Linked DNA regions of Homo sapiens. The protein of the gene in region 7 purifies or fractionates together with the protein of the main gene of each other region. This does not show direct contact. Each region holds a gene or a part of one and is shown on either strand. Other genes may lie near its edges.

Region 1 (3,500 bases), on a different chromosome or scaffold from region 7:
AGGTGTATTGTTTTAAAATGTAATGCAAAAATTTCAATGCAGAGGTCAATACTATTTTAATGTTCATACTTTTAAAAGGATGGCTTTCTTTATTCATGTATTACTTCTATAATTAAGATACAAACAAAATAAGGTGATAGTAGGCACTATTAATATAAGAACATAATTTTAAAAGTTTTTCTCTAGTGTAAGAAACATCATCTCAATAGTGACAGACTGGACTAGATTAGATTTCATAAGATTCTTTCAAAGGTGGTAACTATGAAAGTAATTTTTAAAATGTCAAATGATAAATCACAAGGAATAAGACAAATTCCTAGGTCTACTATATTTCAAGTTCTCTACTATAAATGACAAAGGTTAGATTAGGCAACTGCTAAGATTCATTTAGCTCTACATGTCAATACCTACCTTCAACAGATTTAAACAGAATAAAACTTGAGTTACTATCTTTATTACGTTCAGTCATCAGCCTCCCAAAACAAATATAATTTTTCCTTACCTAAAAAGCATAAAAACTGTCGCAGGCATCAGGAATATTTCATTGCAAGCAATGAATTTCAGAATATTTTGTTGATTAGCACTTAATTTGTCCAAGACAGATCTCAGCAGAGGTAAACTATTTGAGCCCCTTGCCTAAAACAAAAGAAAACCAACATTAGAAATAAGTGAAGCATTTCTGATAACAATATTTTCTTTCTGTAGGTAAACAGCCTATCCAACAGGCAATACAACCAAATATACTACTTTGGAAATGATGGTACGAAGTTCACAAACTATTTAAGGACAAATATAGTATATTTTCCTGCTTTTTTACATTTTTAGACTTAATATAAAAAACAACTTTAGTAAAAGTACTTTTCATTCTTAGCTGCTTTTTCTCAAGAATGATTATTTAACAAAAAATAGTGGTTATTTCTCTCTAACCACAACAAAATCTGACTATCCAGTAATACAGTTAAAATATCTGTGACTCCTTTCTTAGCTAATGTTAGAATTATACAGCAGTGTAATTACTGCTGTGACCAAAGAATTATAGGGATAAAGAAAAAGGCCAATACAAAGCATAAATCTGGCTATTTTAATTCAAATTTCTGTAAATGTGCTTGGTAAATGTGCCTGGATATTTTAATTCAAATTTCAGTATATGCTGTAAATGGCCTGGTGCCAAGTTAGGTTTAATGCTCCAACCTAGCAATAAGAAAGAATTTCAGGAAAGCAGCAGTTCTGAAAATTAGTGTACAAGAGATTCATTCAGTACACTCAACTTATCAGGTATGCCAGAATTAAACACTGACAGAACAAGAGATCTGACAACTCAACAAACTTTAGAGACACAGGTTTCAAAAAAACTGATCTATTTCAAACTTGAAAAATTCCCCTGGAGACTGGGGGGTGATTTTAAGTGCAATCCTTTATCTATAAAATGTTCTAGTTTGTGAAACTTCAACAATAAACACTTTTAAACTTAAAACTTTCAAATCACTAAATAATTCATAACAAGTTTGTAAGGTATAGAGGGACTTTTTGTGACAAATACCAAAATGTCTTAGAACTCAAATTCATGTCAATGATCTGTAATTCAGAAGTCAGACAAAGAGCAGTTTTACTTACGTCAAGGACCTTTTTCGTATATGTGGCAGCATGAAGCAAAGAGAATAACAAGACTGGGAAGATACTCACTAAAGAAAACAATTAAGGAAAACATTTAAAAGTCATCAAGTATTCTGCAAAACAGACTATGTATTATGTCCAAATATACAGATGTGAAACATCTGCTAAAATGAGTTCAGTGGAATGGCTTGTTTTACTGATACACTTTAAGCCAAATCAAATTTTGTTCACTATAAAGAAGAAAGTAAACTATTTCATTTTCTAAAATTCACAGTTCTTTTTTTTTTTTGAGACAAAGTCTCACTCTTCTCCCCCAGGCTGGAGTGCAATGGCGTAATCTTGGCTCACTGCAACCTCCACCTCCTGGGTTCAAGTGATTCTCCTGCCTCAGCCTCCCGAGTAGCTGGGATTATAGGCGCCTGCCACCACGCCCAGCTAATTTTTGTATTTTTAGTAGAGATGGGTTTTCACCATGTTGGCCAGGCTGGTCTCGAACTCCTTACCACAGGTGATATGCCCACCTCGGCCTCCCAAAGTGCTGGGATTACAGGTGTGAGTCACTGCGCCCGGCCAATTCACAGTTCTTTTCATGACAAAAATTAATAGTGAAAAAAAGGTTTTTCCTTCATTTCTACTGGGTAACAATGTAAACACTTGCTAAATTAAACTGAAATCTAGGCCACCCCAAAGGGTTGTAAGTATAGCTTCTAACCCTACAACGGCTTTCTTGGTCACTCTAACTTAGCCTTCAAACACAGTAGTTTTACAGTGCTTTCACAATCTCAAACGCTGAGGAAAGAGTCTAAGGTAACAGTTTAAAGAGTAATTCCCAAATTTTTAGTCCCAAAGACTAAAGATCTTTTATTACTTCTTTCCTACAAGGACTCCATTATTTTGAGATACTATACCTAACAAGTTGTCACAGTTATGCTCTCAATTTGTAAAAATTAACAAGGCAGTATGTATTTTGCTTTGTATATAGTCAATTGAAACTCTCATCAGCTTAATTACAGACATAAGGAAAGAATCCTTTTGAGTCCAACTGTTTGGCTTTATGCCATGGATAAACATACATTTTTCATTCAACTTTTTGAAAAATGGAAATTGTTCAAAAGACCCCATTCTCCACCCCAATTTCTGCCAGGTTGATTAAAAAAAAAAAATTGTCAAGTAGTTCCACAAAATGATATAGACTGTTAGTCAATCACAAATGGCAAAAATACTTGTCCTAAAAATATTACCAGTTCCTAAGAAATGAACCATTGTATTTTTCTATACTAACTGAAGGCCTAATATGACAGGAAATAGTGATTGCTGTAACATAATCTGAGTATCAAATTCATTATAACCATAACTCATTTAGGAATTCAAGGGTCCCAGTTTCCAATTGACAAGCAAGACACCAACCTATATCCAAGTATTAGAAGAACCCTAACTCCCTAATATAGTTCTCCAAATTAATATCCTGACCAACTCATTCCCACCTCTAACAAGAATTAAGAAAAATGTCCATTTCCTAAGTAGAGATCATATATGTATATAAAAAGTTTTAAATTTTTTAATGAATCATAGACTACTTTGAAACTGATGGAAGCTACAACCCTCTCCAAAAGTCACTATAAAACTCTGTCGATCCTTAAAGAATTCAATTTAAACTTTGACACATATCCAGACTGAATTCAATAAAAGGGGCAGTGTCAGGTAGTGAAAATAGAGCCCTGAATTGGGAGTCAAGATACCTGAGTTCCACTCCTGACTCTGTCACTAACCTAATTTTCCTAGGTCAAGTTTCATGCTCTGGCAAATGAGTATGCAGAGATCAAAGCTAGAAACTGCCAATGAGTCTTTTATGTCTAACATTCTATAGTTCACAAATCCTTGGTAAG
Region 2 (2,653 bases), on a different chromosome or scaffold from region 7:
TGGCCGTGGGCCGAGGGGCAGCTGGAGCCTCCACTGAGGGCTGGGCACCCCCCTGGGCCGAGAGCTGGCCCTGGGCAGCCAGGATCTTCCTCTGGGCGGCTGGGGACAAAGAGGCTGCTGTCTCCTCTTCTGTGCGAACTGGGCAGGGGACACGCTCTGGCCCTCCCTGCGTCCCCACCCTCCCCTCGCCCTCACCTCTTCCCGCACCTCTGCCCTCTCCTCCCCCTCCCCCCGCCCTCACCAATGCGCCCTGCATCCTGCAGCTGGATCTTCAGCATCTCCATGGGCGTGGTCACGATCACCTGGCAGGTGCCAGCCCCACAGCCCGCCAGCATCTCTTTAAGCAGGGTCAGCTTCTGCCTGTGGTAGGGGCGGGGCCGCAGTAAGTGGGAAGAGACAGGTCTACCTGCCACCCTCGGGGCTGCCCACCATGCCTGGGCGCAGAGGATGGTGGGAGCCGTGGAGGCAGATGCAGGCCTGTGGGGGTACAGCCCCCAGCCTCCGCCACTGCAGCAGCAGGCAGGGAGGAGACCGATGGACAGACGGCCCCACAGGCAGGGGCCTGGGGAGGGCAGTGGGGCTGTCTGCGACAAAGGAAAATGGGAAATTGGGGGTCAAGTGCCCCAAAAAGGGGCTGCCCTTGCAGTCCCCCTCCAGTGATGGGGGAGCTGGTCAGTGCCCTCAGGCCAAGGGCTACCAAGCCAGAGCCCCACTGATTTGACATCTGCTTTGCTCCCCTGGTCAGGGGAAAGGAGGGAGGGTGCCCCACGAGGTCAAAGAAGCCCCAAGCAAGGGGCTGAAGACAGGCAGAGCCCCCAGGTGGGACCCAGCTGGCAGGGTGGACCCATCCTTTATCTGAAGCCAAAGACCCCTCGAGTGTCTGCCAGGCAGAACCCTCACCCGTCCTTAGAGAGCTGATGTCGGAAGAAGTCGTTGGCTGCCAGCTTGATGGCCTTCTCGGGGGTGACGAGGGTCAAGTTCACAGCAGCTCCTGTGGGGCAGGGGGTCAGCTGGGGGGACATGCTCGGTGGCCTGAGTGGGGAGGCGCTTGGCCAGGACTTGCCTCCTGGCTGGCAAAACCCTGTCCCAGTCACTCCTGGCCACCATCTGTTCTCTCACCCACATTTGGGCCTGGTGTGTGCCAGGTGGGGCGGGGCCAGGCAGGGATGGGGCAGCACCTCAGGCTCAGGCTCTCCCATGCCCACTGCAGCTCCATCTGTCTCTGATTCTGGGCAGCATCTTGCTGCTCAGGGCATGAGGACTGCCCCGGAGCCCCTGAGGCCTCCCTAGGATACCTCTCCCTCCCTGGAGGACAGATGGTGCTTGTGCTGGCAGGGGGCTGGGGCCAGAGGTCACAGGAGTGTGTGGTCTGGACTGGGCCAGAGCTCGGGGGAGGCTGTGGAGAGCCCCCATCTCAGTGCCGAAGGCTCAGGGCTGGAGAGCTTCTGCCAAATCTAGGCTCTGGATTGTGTCCTAAGCTGCTTTGCGGTAATGCCCCTTACTCCCTCCCATCCCCAGCCACAAACGGGGTCCAGCCTGGCCCAGAAGGCAGAGGCAGCTGTGGCCACCAGAGAAGAGACAGATGTACCATGGCATCCCACGCACCAGGCACTAAGTGGGGGTGGGGAGCTGCCACGGGAGAGGCTGAGAACTACCACTCACCAGAGATCCAGTCCCCCCTGCACAGGCACAGCCCCCACAAACACGTCCACGCTCACACACCAGGCCCAGGCTGGCCGCCCTGCCCTGCCTCCCCCACCGCTCCCTGCCACGACTCGCGGGCGCTACCCAGGCCTGCCCATATCGAGCCCAGCCGAGCCAAACCTCACCCCGGTACATGCCGAAGTAGCCCTCGGAGCGGACGGTCTTGATGAGGCAGTCGGACCTGTGGCCAAGGGGACAGGGTGAGCCAGGGCCAGCTGGGGCCAGCCGGAGGCCAGGGTCCCTGGACTGTCTAGGGCTGATAGAAGAGGCCAAGTCCTCAGCCCAGCCCCGACCCCAGTCCTGACCCACGTGGGATCTCCCCTAGGCCCGCCTGCCTCCCGTTTCCCTTCTGTCAAACAGGGTGGGGGGCACAGGAGCAGAGCCCCCACCTCTCCTGCTGCCACATGCTGGGCCCACTCCCCGCGACCGCCCGGCACACTCACATGCTCGTGTACACGCGCTGGCCGTTCTGCTGGTTCTGCAGCCTGGTCTTGGCCAGGTCGATGGGAAACACGCAGGTGACACCGATCAGCCCGGCGATGCCGCCATTGATGAGCTTGGCTGGCAGGCTGTGTGGACAGGGGTGTCAGGACCGGCTTCCTTGACCATGGGTCAGGGTGGGGGTGAGGCACGCAGCCAGGACTGGAGTCTGACCTGATCTGCTTATCAGCCATTTAACTCGATTGCACCCAGGTAGGAGCCGCAGAGGTGGACGCCAGGCCAGGCGGGGTGGAGGTGGAGGTGGAGGAGGCCTTGAGGGAGGGTGGGACCCAGGGGGGTTGGGTGGTGCTCCACCTTCAGGGGAATTTCCAGGCGTCAGCAACCGCCACTTCTGTCCTAGAAGGATGAGGGAATGGGAATGAGTGAGGGTGGGGCCACCCGAAGAGTAATCCTCCCCCAGCCTCCCTCTCTCACGCAGCCCCTCACCCACCACCCCAGACTGAAGCCG
Region 3 (3,500 bases), on a different chromosome or scaffold from region 7:
AAAAGAATGAGCATGAGATCAAGCATGACTATGACAGTCCCCTTCTGTGTGTCAGAAGCCACTGGAGTAACACTGATGAAGTTGGTTTCCTTCCTTTGTCCTCTCCTCCTGCCCCTGCAGAGTTCCTTCACCCCAGCCCAGTTCATTCTTGCTGAATGAACGAAGGTGGAGGAGGCGGTGCAGGGGTCAGGAGAAGGGCTGGCAAGTCTTAGAGAATCAGGCGAGGCTGGAGAGAGAGTTGGGGCCTGGTCACTTCTCCCAGCCATCGCCCATTCCAGGACAAGAGAGGTACAGTCGCCTACCTTCAGGAAGTCTTTCTTCTCCAGAGTGTCCATGATCAGTGGTGGGATGGCTGTGGGGAGAGCAGGGCCAAGAAGGAGAACATTAGTAGTGGAGTTAAAGTCAGGAACTGTGAAGGGTGACCCCCCTCAAAGCTCCTCCCTCTCTCCCCAGAGTCCTCCAAAGTCCCTGAGAACTGCACCTGCTTCTCTCAGAGTCTCCTATGCCCCACCCAGCCACTCCCGCCTTACCCATGGCAGGAATCGCCATGCAGATTCTTGAAATCACCACCTGGAAGATTCCCTGCTTGGCTGCAGTCACCGAGTAGCCAAGCCTCTGACCTGCCTCATCAGCCACCGGGATGCCCACCTGCAGCTCTCTGCAAGGGAGGGGGGTTGGGGTCAGATCACAGGCCCCGGATCCCACCTGCAATGCCCGAATGAGCAGCGGCTCCTCAGGGTCCCCTCACACACCCCAGGCTCAAAGGCTGGTTCTCCCACCTGAGGATCCCAGGGTCAGACTGAGCCAGGGCCCAGCAGCTCATGTCTGGGGAGGGAGAGGGATGTCCCCATTCTGAGGTGGTCTGCGTGGATGGACAGTGTGCTACATTCTGGGCATGCACATGCCAGGAGCCGGGGTCACTCACCTCTGCCTCATCAGGGGGATGTTGATGCAGTTGGCAGCTGCCACTGCTGCAAAGGGCACAAATCTGCCGACCAAGGGGGGCAGGTGCTGGGGAGGAAGGGTGTTGTTCAGTGGCCCTAAGGGCCATGGGGTGGTGAGGGACTCTGGGGAGATATAGGGGGCATATAGGTCAGAACTGGAGGTGTGATGAGGAAGAAGGAGGCAGATAGAGGATGAATGGGGTGGTCAGGGGAGTGAGGGGCCTTTACCTTGGTGAGGGATTTGAGTCCCAGGGCCGTGGCCACAGCTCCAGTGGTGGCACTCACATAGGCTGTCCCCAGCTGCCTGTGGGTGGAAAAGCCAGGTCACGGGGAGAGGTGACAAGTCCAGCAGGTGGCCCTTTCCTTTAGGGATATGCCAAGTCCTCAATACATGAGGCATAAAAGGGGAAGCTCCTTGCAGAAGAAGCCTTCCCTCCATCTCCGGCGTAAACTTGTCTAGAAGCCCCAGTAGCACCCTGTGAAGAGGGGTGGGTCCCCCACAGCATACATAAGAGGACCTCATGCCTTCAGTTAGGCAGGGTAATTCGGGGTGGGGCAGGCTGAGGAGAGGGCGCTGAGCACTGGCTGCATGGTCCACAGGGAACCGGAGAGAAAGGAGAGGGCACTGCAGGCTGGGAGGAGAGGGTCAGATGGGACAGTGCAGCTGCTGCTGGGGGCTGGCTCTCACCTCACAGTGATGGGAGTGTCACCACTGCGGTTGGAGTAGTTAACAATGGCATTGAAGGACTGATTCACCCACTGCCAGAACACCACGGTTGGGGTCTTCCTGAGGGAACAAAGACACTCACTTCTGCCCCGTCTACAGTGGCCCTCATCTTTAGACCCCTGTAATGAAACCAAAGGTTATTCCCCAAGCCTAAGAAGGGACCCAGTTAATGGCCCTAGAACCTGTTCTGGTAACCCCTATGTACCCCCACCCCCATTTATACAAACACACCTACTGTCTCTGGGGTGAGAGACCTCCTGAGGCTGAATTCTGAGGAATGGAAGCGATTCTGACACAATCTTTCACTCACCCAGTTGGCCCAGACAAGAAGCGCACCTAGTCAAGCTATGCTCTAGCTTAGGGCACTGAAGAAGGGGACGTGGGACAAGACCTGCCTGTAGAATGTGAGCATGCAGCCAGTGATGGTCATGTTCATGGGCACCTGGGCTGACATGCGGCCAATCAGGACCACCTTCTCCCCTGTGTCCGGATGGAAGGCGGAGTCATACACATACTTGGCCCTCCACAGCTGGTCCTCGGTGATCCCTGGGGTCACCACGCCGGCCCTGCAGAAGTTGGCAAGGAGCAGACAGGCTATGCCAGGGGGCAGATCTGCCCTCACAGGCCCCACCTGCCCAGCTCAGGGTAACTCTGGACAGAGAACCAGGAACTTCAGCCCCCAGTCTCAGCATAAGGAAGCTCCTTATCTTTGGGAGAGGGCCAAAGTTTCCCAGAAGTGGAGGCTCCTATTTCTATTTCCCTTATAGCCACACAAAGAGGGGTACCCTTCTGTTTCTGCCAAAATGCTGGGTCAGGGATGATGGTGGTTTCCAGTGGGTCAAAAATGGCTGCAAGCATTGCAAGAGTTTTTCCTCCCAAAGATAAGGGGATTTCCCTCCTATCTTCCTGGGACTCCACTTTGAGCACCTCTATCCTTGCAGAGGGTGACCCCGCAATGGGATAGATCCCTGTAGAGGTTTGTGATGCATAGAGCAGCCCCTCCCATAAATATCAATGCCATCTTCTCAACCCAAATGCCCTAAAATCCTTTGGGTTAAAGCTCTGTGATGCCAACAGACGGGGCTAGAGAGTGAGGGGATTGAGGGACAGGGTCACTGTCAAGCTTGAGGAGGCAGGTACAAAACATATTATATTAATCACAGAAAATGAGATCCTGGCACACAGGGTCAGATTGAGGGGTGGTCACCTGTAGTTCTGCACGATGTTCCGAGAAGCTTCCAGCTGTGCCCCGGACAGCAGCAGATTTCGAGGATCAGTAACAGTGAAAAAGTGCCGGGCTCTGCCCAGGAAAGTACTTTGGTCCCAGCGAGGTTCCTGGATGTTGATGTCTAAAGGCAATTCACCCATTTTCTGCAGGACAGAGATAAGGGTCAGAGCGGGAGTCCAAGGGTCCAAGGGCTCCAGCTAGGGGAAATCTTTGGTGCCCCTGCCCTGGCCCCTGAGCTTATCATCAGTCCCTTCAAGAGCTCAAGGTGACTAGATGTAGGGAAAAGAAAGAGAGATCAGACTGTTACTGTGTCTATGTAGAAAGGAAAGACATAAGAGACTCCATTTTGAAAAAGACCTGTACTTTAAACAATTGCTTTGCTGAGATGTTGTTAATTTGTAGCTTTGCCCCAGCCACTTTGCCCCAGCACTTTGACCCAATCTGGAGCTCACAAAAACATGTGTTGTATAAAATCAAGGTTTAAGGGATCTAGGGATGTGCAGGACGTGCCTTGTTAACAAAATGTTTACAAGCAGTATACTTGGTAAAAGTCATTGCCATTCTCTAGTCTCAATAAACCAGGGGCACAATTAACTGCGGA
Region 4 (3,500 bases), on a different chromosome or scaffold from region 7:
CAGCTACTTGGGAGGCTGAGGCAGGAGAATGGCGTGAACTCGGGAGGCGGAGCTTGCAGTGAGCCGAGATTGCGCCACTACACTCTAGCCGGGGCGACAGAGCGAGACTCCATCTCAAAAACAAACAAACAAACAAACAAAGAAACGTAACTAAAAGGTTATGCCAGTTTATTTTTTAAAATCCTATTTCCTATGGTCTTCAAAAACATGATTTAATTGCTACATAATTTTGCTACATAATTTTCCATTAAGAAGAAGTTATCTTCTCACTGCATCATTACCAGTGTGCCACCATACTGTACAAGAAATATAAATACAAATTCTCCACAAAGCAATTAGGCAGACAAAGATCTATTCAGTACAAGGCAATTTATTCAGCATTCTCTTAACCAAAGATCTTTATTAAGCAGCGTTTCTGTTGTTTCTACCAGTCAACCTCAAAATTAGCAAGAAGATAATTCTGAAAGGCAATTCTGAATTAAGATTCTAACAAAATTAAACACAACATATGAATAAATAAAACAGAAGTCTCAAATTATAGCAAATAAGAAAATACAGTATATTATAAAAAATGATTCTTAATATGTACCATACATTATTAAAAGTTGAATCAATTTATTTTATTTTATTTTTTGCAGCAGGGTCTCACTCTGCAGCCCAGGCTGGAGTGAAGTGCCTCGATCACAGCTCACCGCAAGCAACCTCTGCCTCCTGGGCTCATGCAATTTTCCCACCTCAGCCTCCCAAGTAACTGGGACTACAGGTGCATGCCACCATGGCTGGCTAATTTTTTGTATTTTTTGTAGAGACGGGGTTTCACCATGTTGCCCAGGCTAGTCTCAAACTCCTATACTCAAGAAATCCACCCACCTTGGCCTTCGAAAGCACTGAGATTACAGGCATGAGGCACCACACCCAGCCGTGAATCAGTTTATACCTTAATAAGTCAAAATACTTATTCAATTATAATACTAAATAAGAGTTGCTTTACCCTTCCAATCTCATGACCATCACAAGCATCTCGACAGACCACTTCCATGAGGGCGGCGCCATAACTTTCAATAATGGCTATGTTTTCTCGCTGTAATTTGCTAAATACATCTTCAGGGGCTGTCAGCCTTTCCCACATGGTTTTCTTGGCTAAAAGGATTAAAACAGAAAAAAACACTCCAGTAAAAAGCAGTGTAATAACTGAGTAATTATACCTCACATGCTAGGTATGAGCTAAGGAAGAAAAAAAAAAAACGCAACAAAAAAATCCTTCCATCACTGCTTGTACACAAAGGCCCACTGACCGGTGGGTCCAAGCAGGTTAACTCTAATAACACAATGCACCTATTTCATGCATGTTTCATAACACTAAGATAATAATTGTACCTGGAAAAGGATAAATCATTCTGAAAGAGATCAAAATGAATTACAAGACTCCATGAGAACCAACGTCCTGTATTTATCCTGCTCATCAGTCTTTTTTTTTTTCCTTCTTTTTTTTTTTGAGACAGAGCCTGGCTCTGTCTCCAGGCTGGAGTGCAGTGGCATGATCTTGGCTCACTGCAGCCTCCACCTCCCAGGTTCAAGCGATTCTCCTGCCTCAGCCTCCCCAGTAGCTGGGACTACAGGTGCATGCCACCATGCCCAGCTAATTTTTGTATTTTTAGTACAGATGGGGTTTCATCATGTTGGCCAGGATGGTCTTGATCTCCTGACCTCGTGATCTGCCTGCCTTGGCCTCCCAAAGTGCTGGGATTACAGGTGTGAGCCACCGTGCCCAGCCGCTAATCAATCTTTTATCTTTTATTGAGATCTTTTAAAATTGCCAGGCGTGGTGGCTCACACCTGTAATCCTAGCACTTTGGGAGGCCGAGGCGGTGGATCACTTGAGGACAGGAGTTCAAAACCAGCCTGGCCAACATGGTGAAACCCCGTCTCTACTAAAAATACAAAAAATTAGTGGGGCGTGGTGGTGCACACCTATAATCCCAGTTACTGGGGAGGCTGAGGCAGGAGAATCACTTGAACCCAGGAGGTGGAGGTTGCAGTGAGCTGAGATCGCACCGCTGTACTCCAGCTTGGGCTACAGAGTGAAGCTCTGTCTCAAAAAACAAAAGAAAAGAAAAGAAAATTTAGCTAGAAAGGATCAGGTACAATGTAGACAAAAATTTGCCTCCAAAAAAATCAGATATTTTTATTCTTTTTTTTAGTTGAAATACTTATTAAAAATAAAAGCACACCTATTATAAAAATAAAAGCACAACCATTATACAATGATTAGGAACAGTATGATCATACATTTTATGTAAGACCCACAAACATACTCTTATGTGAGACTCTTTAAAAATTTCACAAGTACATTAAATAAAGCAATAACTTGTATTGGAAACTAATCTCATTTTTTCCAACTGCTACATAGCAGCAGTTTTTAAATTGGCATCTTGATGACTTCTTATAAAAAGCCTATTGTAGAGCCCCACCTAGTGGTTAAGTGGTGACTTGGCCAATTCAACTAAATGGAATGTTAAGAAAAACACACACACAAAAGAAAAATGTGGGAGGTGCTGAGTGGAGAAATCCCATTACTATCTCTTTTCTTAAAAGAAGCTCATGTTTGCTTAAAAAACTTCTCTAAACTATTCTGTTATTTTTCCTCATCTTACAAATATTCTCATGCATTATTTATGTGGGTGCTACATGCCTATAAATCTACCATTTGGCTATTACTACCTTATAGGGTACTATGTATGGCATAAAATACAACCACCATAAGGATAATGAGATCAAGTCAACCTTACGTACACAGTGGTTTTTAACAGTGTATACAAAATAACACTCACAAAGGTGAAGAGCCCAAAGAAAATCCATTATCAGAAGGTGCTCTGACAACTTCTTAACAAATGGCAGAATAACTCTGAATAACTTGATTGAACATCAAATGTCTATAAAGTATATAAAGCATTATATACTGATGTGTTGAACACTTAATAACATTTTCATGTCTTAAGATTAGTTTCAATTAAAAATGCTAACTTTTTAGAAAGCAGCATTTAGCAATATTTTAAATGTGCCTAACTTTTGACCAAGAAATTCCACTTCTTGGAATTTATCCAAACAAAACCTCACTAGTACAAAAAGATACATGTATACTATTGATGAGTTTATACTGGAGAAGGTCATTCATTTGAATCTTTTTAAAATAAAAGTACATACTTTTACACATGGAAATTCCACCATTAAGCAGTATCCTTTTTGAGAAATATAGGCATATAAAAAAAGTTGATGTAGCATTTTTGTAATAAAAATTTAGAAACAATTGAAATGCCTGTGAATAAGGAAAATGGCAGATAAGTGTTTCATCCATATCATGGAATAACAAAGACTTTTGTGTTTCTTTTTGAGACAGAGTTTCACTCTTGTTGCCCAGGCTGGAGGGCAGTGGCGCAATCTGGGAAACCTCTGCCTCCTGGGTTCAAGCGATTCTCCTGCTTCAGCCTCCTGAGTAGCTG
Region 5 (3,500 bases), on a different chromosome or scaffold from region 7:
CATAGCAGCAGCACTTGATCTGTTTTCCTGAAGCTGATTGGTCACCCAAATAGGTACTGCCTCATTCCACCAAAAAGGATCCTTGTCATTAGAGTCAGAAAAGTGTTTCTTTGTGACTGCATCATACATGGAATTAGCCACAATGCCATGGCTTTCTTCATACAAGCCTGTCACAATACTGTAGTGGTTTGGAAATGTTTTTGTGATAAAAACATTTTTAACATGCTCTACCAAAACACCTTCTTTGATAAAATTCTGGAGATGAGGAAATTCATAGTTCTTCAGATAATCAGCTCTGAAGCCATCAAAGGATACTAGTAGTAACTTAGGTGGCAAACTAGAGGAAGAGTCACTTCTAAAACCAGTTATAAGTCCAGAAAACAAAAGTATTACTAATAACTTCATAATGAACACGTTGAAGGACAGCAATCAGGGTTCCTAAAATGTAAAAACACAACTCATAAGTAGTAATTCTATTTCATTTGGGTTAAGTTTTAGAATTTTAGCCCACAGGAGGAGAGAACCAACATTTATATGCCAGCTTTACCTATATTAACTTAAATAATACCATTTATTTAAAAATAACTAAAAGCTAAAATTGGAAAAAAAATTGTCTTGTCCAATTTCCTATTTATATATATGCCCTACTCTATCCTTCATATGGGCCATTTTTATACTCCACATCAATACTCCTTCTAGGCTGTCAGCTCATTTGCCACATTAGAAATTCTTCGAAAGGCTTAATAAAAATAGATGCAGACACTAAAATGATTCTTTTGTAAAACATAACGTTAATGCCAAGCTTTCAGAGGCTCCAGAGATGATGATTATTTTTCCAGTTTAATAAATTGTACTTTATAGTTTCTTTAACCCACAGAAATAATTGGTGGAAATTCTACCATATTGGTTTATTGCCAGTTCTTGTTGAAAATATTGCTATAAAAAAGGGGGAATAAGAAATAAATGCTATTGAGAAAAAAGCCCCCATCAGTCTGTATGTGCCCCAATAGTCACATGAAGTTGATTAACAAACATGCAAAGCCTACATGGACATGGATGCTCCAGTAACTTATGAAGAAATCCAATAGCTATTGAAATGAGTTTTATTACCACATCCCTCTTAAACTTCCTTTTAGCTATCAACAACTATTTTCACTAATACCCTAGGCTTAAAGCTATCTCTGATTTTTTGTTCTTTCTTTAAATCAATTCACTGATGACAAAAACAGCTTTTCCCTAATAAATCTCCCTGCCTTTGCTCTCTATCTTCTTTGGTCTCTAAGAAAATAGGACATGTGAGTGAGGTAAAATGATTCACTTCAGATGGACAGGATGCCTCTTCCATTGTAACAGGAGAGAAGGAGCAAAGGTAGGGGAGCTGACAGATTTGAGGGCTGGAGGTGAAGAGAGTTGCCGGAGGTAGGGTCAATTATTGACAGGGAGTAGAATGGTAAAAGGTTCAGAGGTTTGAGGAACAGAAAGAATGTCTGAAATAGTTAATGTGGAAGATGGGAGAAAGTGTGAGTAAACAGTAGAACTGGAGTCAATGTTGACAGCTGTCATGAATTTTCATAGTGACACAGTTGACTGGTTTTCTCTAGCAACTCAGTAAACCTGGCACAGGCATGAACAAAACAGGCAGCTGATCCTACCTGGATTTGAGATTCTGCCAGAAACTGAAGGAAGACAAAGGAAGCTGAAGATGCTAACTAAAGAGCAGCTGAAATTGGGGCTGCAGCATCTAAGCTGAAACTGACAGATGTAAGTAAGAAGTAGAGAAGTTTTTCAACTAGAGGTTCTGGTGAAGTCAAAGAACTAATGAAGATTAGTTAAGAGTAACTTTTAGTGAAAGTTACAAAGATCTGGGATTGCAGTTAGAATGCAACAAGTGAATGCATTATTTCAGACTAAGAAGACCCTGAACATGGTAACGGGTATGCATGTTGAGGTCCCAGGTATGAAGAGCAGCAAGTTAACTAATATGATTATGAAGTTCAGGAGTCATTTATTGTGTATTCTCTCAAGTAGACTGGAAACACTTTCTCTCTTTCTTTCAAACATGCCACCTGGAGGATCTGCGTACTTGTGGTCAAATACTGACAGAGGCTGTGATCCTCTGAAAAACTGACTTAAAATTAGGAAGACCAAAGGCACAGAATCTGATTTATGAGGATCTTGGGGTCTACAAAATCTCTACTATTTTAATCGGAGACAGGTTGCCTTCTGAATGTGGTGCATGGAACATTTGTTCCTGGTGCTCCCTAATAACCAAAACTAATGCAGAGTAACAAAACCACCTCTCCAAAAGACAGAGTAACAAACCTAATGAGTGGTAGAGGAGGCATATGGGTATTTCCACAGACACAGCCCTAGTCATAGCACAGCAATTTCAGCTATCAAGAATCTAGACAATGGTACTTACCCGTTCATTCAATATTTTATGCCCTCAACACAGTGTTTATGTATGACTTAACTCCTCCCTCAGAGAGTTTTAACTGGGTTCAATCAGATGACAGTATCATGTGGGTTGCTACAATTTTAGAACTTGTGTCAAGGGCATGCAGGTCTCCATGAAAGCTTGGATTGAGTAGATTCCCTGGTTTCTCTCTGGGTATAGTTCCCCATATCCAAATATTTCTTTCCAATCACAGAGTAGACTTTTAAATCAGCAAATACGGCGGCACAGTATCTTCTCACAGGGAAAACATACTCATAAACTTAATTTTTGAAAAACACTATTTACTGCTCTGGCTCTTTCCCTGTGTAACTATTTTATATTCCCAACCAATCCTATCCCACTGCACAGCTGTTCTGCTGCCAAATCCAATCTGATATGTGTCAGATGGAATGCATTCTCTATACCTCCAAATCTTTTCCCCCTTCCTTAGTTCCCAACCCTTTAAAACAGCTTCGCCATTCTCTCAGTAACAAAGAGATCCCCTGAGTATATGATCAGTTGCCAGTCTAGTCAATTCTATCTTCGTATCATCTAATACAGCATATCAGACAAAAGAATCACTGAAGGGAGCTTGTTAAAAGTGCAGCTGTCAAGTCACTATAACTAGGAGATTCTGATTCAGTCAGTCCACAGTAGAGGCCAGAAACCTGCATTTGAAACAAGCATTTTTAACAGCTACCCACTCATCCATCTCTACTACTGCTATATTTTTTAGTCCTCAATACCTCTTGTCCAGAGCACTTTTGTCTCTTAATTCACCTTTCTACCTCAACCACCTTCCACTTTCTTACCTCACACCTGCTGCCTACTCAGTCTCTCTGGGCACAGCTCTGTTCATGTTCCCTTAATTTAAAATATATTCAAAAGGCCCCCCTGCCTATACAAAAAGCCCAAATGCCTCAGTCTCACATTGAAGCCCCTCCAATATCCAGGTCCAACTTGCATGCAAATTACTGTGAAATAAATACAGAAATAACTGCCAACTTGAATTTCCATTCACCATACTTCATTGCCATGGTCTTTCTGAAATGTATTACAACAA
Region 6 (3,500 bases), on a different chromosome or scaffold from region 7:
CACAAATAAAACCTATTATAACTCTTAGGAAATAAAACTTGAATCCTGATTGGCAGAACTGCCTCAGTAAGGGCTGGCTGAACTGCATACCCAAAATGTTTTAGATCTACGGTCCACTTTCACGTTGGCTGGACTAATGCGTTTCTACTGCTCCTCTTACACGTTGACTGACTTTCCTCTCAGGAAGAGGTAGAGACTATGTTCCTTTTTTCCTCAATCTGGGACTTGGTTTCTGAGACATCACTGTTGTAACCAAGAGCATGGTAAAAGTGATGTTATGTGACATTGAAGGATAAGTCCTAAAAAGCCAACTCTGCCAAGCTCTCCTGGAGCCCCAAAATACCACCTAAGTCCAGCTGCCCTGAAGCCACCATGCTAGAGATTTTCGGGAAAGACTATACCACTAATAGTGAAAAGCACAAAGAGCATCCTTTCAGCTCAGAAGTGAAAAGCTTCATGAGACTCAGAACCAGAAGAGTCTGATACTCCCGAGTTCTTCACCCACAGAAAAGCTTATCATACACCATTGATCTTTGGATGCTTTGCTAACATAGCAAGAAATAATATACAGTTGATACTGCTAAGCACCACAGCCACCACTTGGTTGGGTTCAGAAGACATCCTACTTTACCTTTTTAAAGTTTGGTCCAAATTTGTACCTACAACTTTTCCTTTTTTCCTGCAGCACAGGTAAAATGTTGGAACCTTTAACAAGTTCAGGCAATGATGATATAAAGAAGTTAACATGCAACTAGCTGCACTGGCTTCTAAATTGAGTTCACTGACCTTACCATGAGTTTGTAGTAACATTTCTCTCCAATCTCTGAAAAAGTTTTTCTCTCCAGGCCATCTGTACGCTTTACGTAGGGACTGTTAACCAACCCACGTATTACACATAAGGACTCTAGGTAAAATCTAGTGTTTGAAAAACAGCATGTTATATATTACACTAGGTTTTTCGTTTTTTTTCCAGTGGTGGGCTGTCATTACAAAAGATTGAACTTTTATACACTTCCTAATCAAACTTAAGGGGAATCTAAACACAAAAACTAATTCACTTTCTAGGAGCTCTTTAAAAATGGGCTTAAACCTACAATCCAATCTCGTATCTAAGTATGATGGAATGCTTTTTCCCCAGTGGCATTCATATAGTTCAGCTGTCAAGCAGTACCTTTCTTAAAATACCAGACTGAAAATAGTTCAATTTTCTGTAAAAAGTCAGAGCCGGGCACGGTGGCTCATGCCTATAATCCCAGCAGTTTGGGAGGCTGAGGCGGGCGGATCACCTGAGGTTGGAAGTTCGAGACCAGCCTGACCAACACAGGGAAACCCCGTCTCTACTAAAAATACAAAATTAGCTGGGCGTGGTGGCACATGCCTGAAATCCCAGCTACTTGGGAGGCTGAGGCAGAACAATCGCTTGAACCTGGGAGGCAGAGGTTGCCGTGAGGCGAGATCGCGACACTACACTCGTCTGGGCAACAAGAGTGAAACTCCGTCTCAAAAAAAAAAAAAGTCAGATCTGTGTAAAGAGAATTAGTGTACCTGAAAATTGTTTTCAGCTGTCAATCACTTTGGTCCTTTACTGTCATTCTAAGAATCAGCCTAATTTGGTTTACCTTGTCTTACAAATAAGGATTAGCAAACTCACCAACATAAAAAAGGTGTAGTACATGCTGCAAAAATGTAAGTATACACTGACATTTACTTGCCAAAATAACCACAAATGACTACACATATTTAACTATAATTAAATCAAGTTTTTAGAAATTTAAAGTCTGCTTCCCTAGAAATACAGGAACTTTGTGTGATAAAACTTGAGACATATGACAATTTCTGAATAGCAACTGGAATATTCAACCAACAATGGTCATGGTCAGTTTTGTATTTTTTCCTTAACTTATATACTTCATTCTTTCCAACTATTTTAAAGCTAAATCTTTTTTAAAAAAGTTTTAAAAATAAGTCACAGGCAAATCATGAAGAGTTGGGTTTATTTCAACAGTAAATCTGAAACTCTTGCCTTAAGCAAGAGTACTACAGTAATTATATCAGGAATAGACAATTTCCTACACTGTCAAATATATAAAAGTTCCTTTTGCACTTTCTTCAACACTGATCAACAAGCAGATTCAGTCCACATTTGCTTTGATCTAACTACTGAGTTAACCCAAGCTTCTTCTTCAGAGACTCTGGCATCTCGGGTGGAGGAGGGCGAGGAAGTCTGAAGTAGACCTTCACGGAGTCATAGATAAACCACTGTAGTGCAGTCAGGGTACCAATCATGATGATACGGGCAAACAGTCCCTTCCATACACCTGGTTCAAACAGGAAAAGCAAATGAAAAAAATGCAACATATCCAAAACTGTTGTTCTTTCTTTCAAGAAAAAAACATCATCCTACCTTTAAATCCAAGTCTCTTGAGGACCAGAGAAGCACTGCTACCTTTTTCTTTATTCAACACAGATACCACAGAATCAGCAGGGTGAGAAACAATTGCACAAAAGACTCCAGCTGAAAAAAGATAAAGGATCCCATACAGTGCCAGTTAAAAACAAAACTTCACAGAGCCAATAATCATTTTTATGATTTTAAAATAATATTTTTCTAGTTCTAAAATAAAAATCAGACTCAGGGTGACACGGGTACAGTTATCAAGCTGTCTATCCTATGTAAAACGGAACAATCTTTTAAAGTTTTTCAGATTTTATTCAACACTTTCTGTATAAAATTCTTAATAAACAACAACAAAAAAATGGTGCAACAGTAAGATCAATACATTCCCAAGCCTAATAATGACATCCCATGAAACAGCCCTTTTAGGAACTAGTTAGCAAGTATTTATGAATCCTAAAAAGCATATAAAATGTTATGGGAAGATAAAACTGCTTTATAGGCCAGGCACATCACCTGAGGTCAGGAGTTTGAGACCAGACTCATCAACATGGTGAAACCCCATCTTTACAAAAATCAGGCCAGGCGCGGTGGCTCACGCCTGTAATCCCAGCACTTTGGGAGGCCAAGGCAGGCAGATCACCTGGGGCCAGGAGTTTGAGACCAGCCTGGCCAACATAGTGAAACCGTCTCTACTAAAAATACTAAAAATTAGCCGGGCGTAGTGGCAGACGCCTGCAATCCCAGCTACTCAGGAGGCTGAGACAGGAGAATCGCTTGAACCCAGGAGGCGGAGGCTGCAGTGAGCCAAGATTGCACCACTGCACTCCAGCCTGGGCAACAAGGGTAAAACTCCATCTCAAAAAAAAACAAAAAACAAAAACAAAAATCAGCCGGGCATGGCGGTGCATGCCCGTCCCAGCTACTTGGGAGGCTGCGGCAGAAGAATCACTTGAACCCAGGAGGAGGAGGTTGCAGTGAGCTATTATCATGCCACTGCACTCCAGCCTGGGCAACAGAGCGAGACTATGCCTCAGGGAAACCAAAAAAACAAAAACACTGCTTTATAACCTTTGGAGTATTTTTCCCTCTCAAAAAACGCCAA
Region 7 (2,648 bases):
AACATGATTGTTTACAGATTGTCCCAAACAATGAATGCATGAATGAATGAATACGTAAGGCCTCAAAGATGGCAGAGGCCAGGTACAGTGGCTCACACCTGTAATCTCAGCACTTTGGGAGGCCAAGGTGGGCGGATCACCTGAGGTCATGAGTTTGAGACCAGCCTGGCCAACATGGCAAAATGTCGTCTGTACTAAAAATATAAAAATTAGCCAGACATGGTAGTGACCACCTGTAATCCCAGCTACTCGGGAGGCTGAGGCAGGAGAATTGCTTGAACCGGGAAGTGGAGGTTGCAGTGAGCCAAGATCACGCCATTGCACTCCAGCCTAGGTGACAGAGTGAGACTCTGTCAAAACAAACAAACAAACAAACAAACAAACAAAAAAGGGAGAAATCTGCTGACATACCTTCTTTATGCTGTCTATATATAGGAAAGTGGGCATGTATTACTTTCATAATAAAAGTTTCTTTTTAGAGACAAAAACGATATAAGAAGTCCATGGATAAAATCGGCATTTATTCAGAAGGCATGATGCCAGGAAGAAACTCCCCAAGTGGGAGACAATGGCTGGCCCCCCTGCAAGGGAAACAAGGCTTCAGCCCTTCCCTACTCCCAGACCTGCCGGGAAGGCTGGGAGCACAGTTCATGGAGGGTCTCTGGGGTGGGCCTGGGTGTCTGACCTGTCCCTCTGCCCACAGGTGAATGTGACCTGCGTCCTGAGGATCCCGAGTATCAGGAGAGCTGGCAGAGGAAGTCATGCAGAGGCAAAGCCAGGAGCCCCGACAGGGAGATCCCCAGTGTGTCAGAGATGCAGGTGGCCGCCATTGCAAACTCCCGGTGCTCATCACTGGTCTGGGAGGGCAGAGAGCAGGGGTGAGGCTTCAGTCCCAGACATCCCTGCCCTGGGTGTCCCTGGACAGGCCACCCCCAGCCCTTGCCCGGCCAATGCTGACCTCCAGGGCGATGTTGTGGAAGGTGTTCACGTAGGCTGCGCCTCCCAGGAGCCCCTCATACAGAATGATCAGGAAGACGAGGTAGATGCTTGGCAGAAAGCCGAACCACACGTCTGCCAGCAGGAACACCAGGTTGAGGCACTGTGAACAGGGGGAGAGGCTAAGCCTGGGACCAGGGCGGGGCAGGGAAGGAGAGGTGGCCTCCCCTCCAGGGGTCCCTGGTTTTAGGAGTTACTGGTGAAGGAGAGGGCTGCCAGGTCTAGATAAAATCTCAACACCAGCCCGGTGTGGTGGCTCACACCTGTAATCCCAGCACTTTGGGAGGCTGAGGTGGGCAGATCACCTGAGGTCAGGATTTCGAGACCAGCCTGGCCTGGTCTCTACTAAACATGGTAAAACCCCATCTCAACTAAAAATACAAAAATTATCTGGGTGTAGTGGTTCTGTAGTCCCAGCTACTTGGAAGGCTGAGGCAGGAGAATCACTTGAACCTGGGAGGCAGAGGCTGCAGTGAGCCAAGATCGCAGCACTGCACTCCAGCCTGGGCAACAGAGAGAGACTCCATCCCAAAAAAAAAAAAAAAAAATTCTCAACCTCAGCCTGGTGCAGTGGCTCATGCAGGTAATACCAGCACATTGGGAGACCAAGGTGGGATGATCACTTGAGGCCAGGAGTTCGAGACCAGCCTGGGCAACATAACAAAACTCCGTCTCTACAAAAAATTTAAAAATTAGTTGAGCATGGTGGCACGCACCTGCAGTCCCAGCTACTCGGGAGTCTGAGACAGGAGGATTGCTTGAACCTAGGAGGTGGAGGCTGCAGTAAGCTATGATTGTGCCACTGCACTCCAGCCTGGGTGACAGAGCAAGATCCTGTCTCATAAAAAAAAAAAAAAAAAAAAAAAAAAAAATGGAGGCTTCTTAAAGGAAGTGGGACCATCGAAACCAGGATTTCTCAATTGCAGCACTCTTGGCGTTTGGTGCTGGTTGTTCTGCATGGTGAGGGCTGTCCTGTATATGGCAGCGCATTTAGCAGGATCCCTGGCCTCTGCCCGCTAGATGCCCATAGCATCCCTCAGTTGTGACAACCAAAGCATGCCTGCAGACGTTGCCAAACATCCGCTGGGCAGCAAAATTGCCCCTATTGGAAAAACCGTTGGTTCACTATGGTAAAACAAGGTGGGAGTAGCCGGGCATCCTATTCAGCTGGGCTCGAACTCCTGGTCTCAAGCAGTCGCTGCCCCCCTGCCTCAGCCTCCCAAAGTGCTGGGATTATAGGCAGGAGCCACCGCACCTGGCCAGGAAGCCTCTTCGATCCCCACCCCAGGGTGTAGGTCCCACCTCTGTGCCCCAGTCTCTCAAGGAGGTGCCATCCTCCCAGCACTGACCACGCCACATTGCCTCTTGTGCAGTGTGTAGGCCTCCTCGTGGCGGTTCATACTTTTCGTATATGTAAGAATTGCCTGGGGATCTAGGTACAAATGCCCCAAGCGGGGCTTACCCTAGAGGTCCTAATTCATTAAATCTGAGGTAGACTTAAAGATGAGCATTAAAAAGGACACACCTCTAGCCAGGTGTGGTGGCTCACACCTGTAATCCCAGCACTTTGGAAGGCCAAGGCGGGTGGATCACCTGAGGTCAGGAGTTCAAGACCAGCCTGGCCAACATGGCGAAACCCCATCTCTACTAAA

The links.
Region 1: the proteins of CLN3 (region 7) and TMEM33 purify together in Homo sapiens (affinity purification with mass spectrometry, with the first as the bait; one large-scale study listed by BioGRID). This does not show direct contact.
Region 2: the proteins of CLN3 (region 7) and SLC25A22 purify together in Homo sapiens (affinity purification with mass spectrometry; 2 studies listed by BioGRID and IntAct, with this or other methods). This does not show direct contact.
Region 3: the proteins of CLN3 (region 7) and SFXN3 purify together in Homo sapiens (affinity purification with mass spectrometry, with the first as the bait; one large-scale study listed by BioGRID). This does not show direct contact.
Region 4: the proteins of CLN3 (region 7) and NUP205 purify together in Homo sapiens (affinity purification with mass spectrometry; 2 studies listed by BioGRID and IntAct, with this or other methods). This does not show direct contact.
Region 5: the proteins of CLN3 (region 7) and ENPP4 fractionate together in Homo sapiens (co-fractionation; one large-scale study listed by BioGRID). This does not show direct contact.
Region 6: the proteins of CLN3 (region 7) and SLC25A3 purify together in Homo sapiens (affinity purification with mass spectrometry, with the first as the bait; one large-scale study listed by BioGRID). This does not show direct contact.

Annotation. Positions count from the first base shown.
Region 1 is NC_000004.12:41,941,929-41,945,428, reverse strand, and holds part of TMEM33 (transmembrane protein 33), read right to left. Parts: intron 1,683-3,500; coding exon 1,615-1,682; intron 637-1,614; coding exon 503-636; intron 1-502. UniProt on the Homo sapiens protein: Acts as a regulator of the tubular endoplasmic reticulum (ER) network by modulating intracellular calcium homeostasis. Mechanistically, stimulates PKD2 calcium-dependent activity. Suppresses the RTN3/4-induced formation of the ER tubules.
Region 2 is NC_000011.10:792,629-795,281, forward strand, and holds part of SLC25A22 (mitochondrial glutamate carrier 1), read right to left. Parts: exon of another isoform or gene 2,636-2,653; intron 2,542-2,635; 5' UTR 2,379-2,541; coding exon 2,359-2,378; intron 2,274-2,358; coding exon 2,148-2,273; intron 1,961-2,147; coding exon of another isoform or gene 1,886-1,960; coding exon 1,830-1,885; exon of another isoform or gene 1,825-1,829; intron 992-1,824; coding exon 901-991; intron 361-900; coding exon 242-360; intron 139-241; coding exon of another isoform or gene 100-138; coding exon 1-99. UniProt on the Homo sapiens protein: Mitochondrial glutamate/H(+) symporter. Responsible for the transport of glutamate from the cytosol into the mitochondrial matrix with the concomitant import of a proton. Plays a role in the control of glucose-stimulated insulin secretion.
Region 3 is NC_000010.11:101,034,234-101,037,733, reverse strand, and holds part of SFXN3 (sideroflexin-3), read right to left. Parts: intron 3,043-3,500; coding exon of another isoform or gene 3,040-3,042; coding exon 2,879-3,039; intron 2,238-2,878; coding exon 2,067-2,237; intron 1,791-2,066; coding exon of another isoform or gene 1,732-1,790; coding exon 1,633-1,731; intron 1,249-1,632; coding exon 1,173-1,248; intron 1,068-1,172; exon of another isoform or gene 1,012-1,067; coding exon 926-1,011; intron 659-925; coding exon 531-658; intron 353-530; coding exon 303-352; coding exon of another isoform or gene 1-302. UniProt on the Homo sapiens protein: Mitochondrial serine transporter that mediates transport of serine into mitochondria, an important step of the one-carbon metabolism pathway.
Region 4 is NC_000007.14:135,620,417-135,623,916, reverse strand, and holds part of NUP205 (nuclear pore complex protein Nup205), read right to left. Parts: intron 1,141-3,500; coding exon 992-1,140; intron 1-991. UniProt on the Homo sapiens protein: Plays a role in the nuclear pore complex (NPC) assembly and/or maintenance. May anchor NUP62 and other nucleoporins, but not NUP153 and TPR, to the NPC.
Region 5 is NC_000006.12:46,136,489-46,139,988, reverse strand, and holds part of ENPP4 (bis(5'-adenosyl)-triphosphatase ENPP4 precursor), read right to left. Parts: intron 439-3,500; 5' UTR 406-438; coding exon 1-405. UniProt on the Homo sapiens protein: Hydrolyzes extracellular Ap3A into AMP and ADP, and Ap4A into AMP and ATP. Ap3A and Ap4A are diadenosine polyphosphates thought to induce proliferation of vascular smooth muscle cells.
Region 6 is NC_000012.12:98,600,186-98,603,685, reverse strand, and holds part of SLC25A3 (solute carrier family 25 member 3 isoform b precursor), read right to left. Parts: intron 2,516-3,500; coding exon 2,405-2,515; intron 2,319-2,404; coding exon 2,158-2,318; 3' UTR 1-2,157. UniProt on the Homo sapiens protein: Inorganic ion transporter that transports phosphate or copper ions across the mitochondrial inner membrane into the matrix compartment. Mediates proton-coupled symport of phosphate ions necessary for mitochondrial oxidative phosphorylation of ADP to ATP.
Region 7 is NC_000016.10:28,476,779-28,479,426, forward strand, and holds the end of CLN3 (battenin), read right to left. Parts: intron 1,100-2,648; coding exon 959-1,099; intron 858-958; coding exon 738-857; 3' UTR 501-737; downstream 1-500.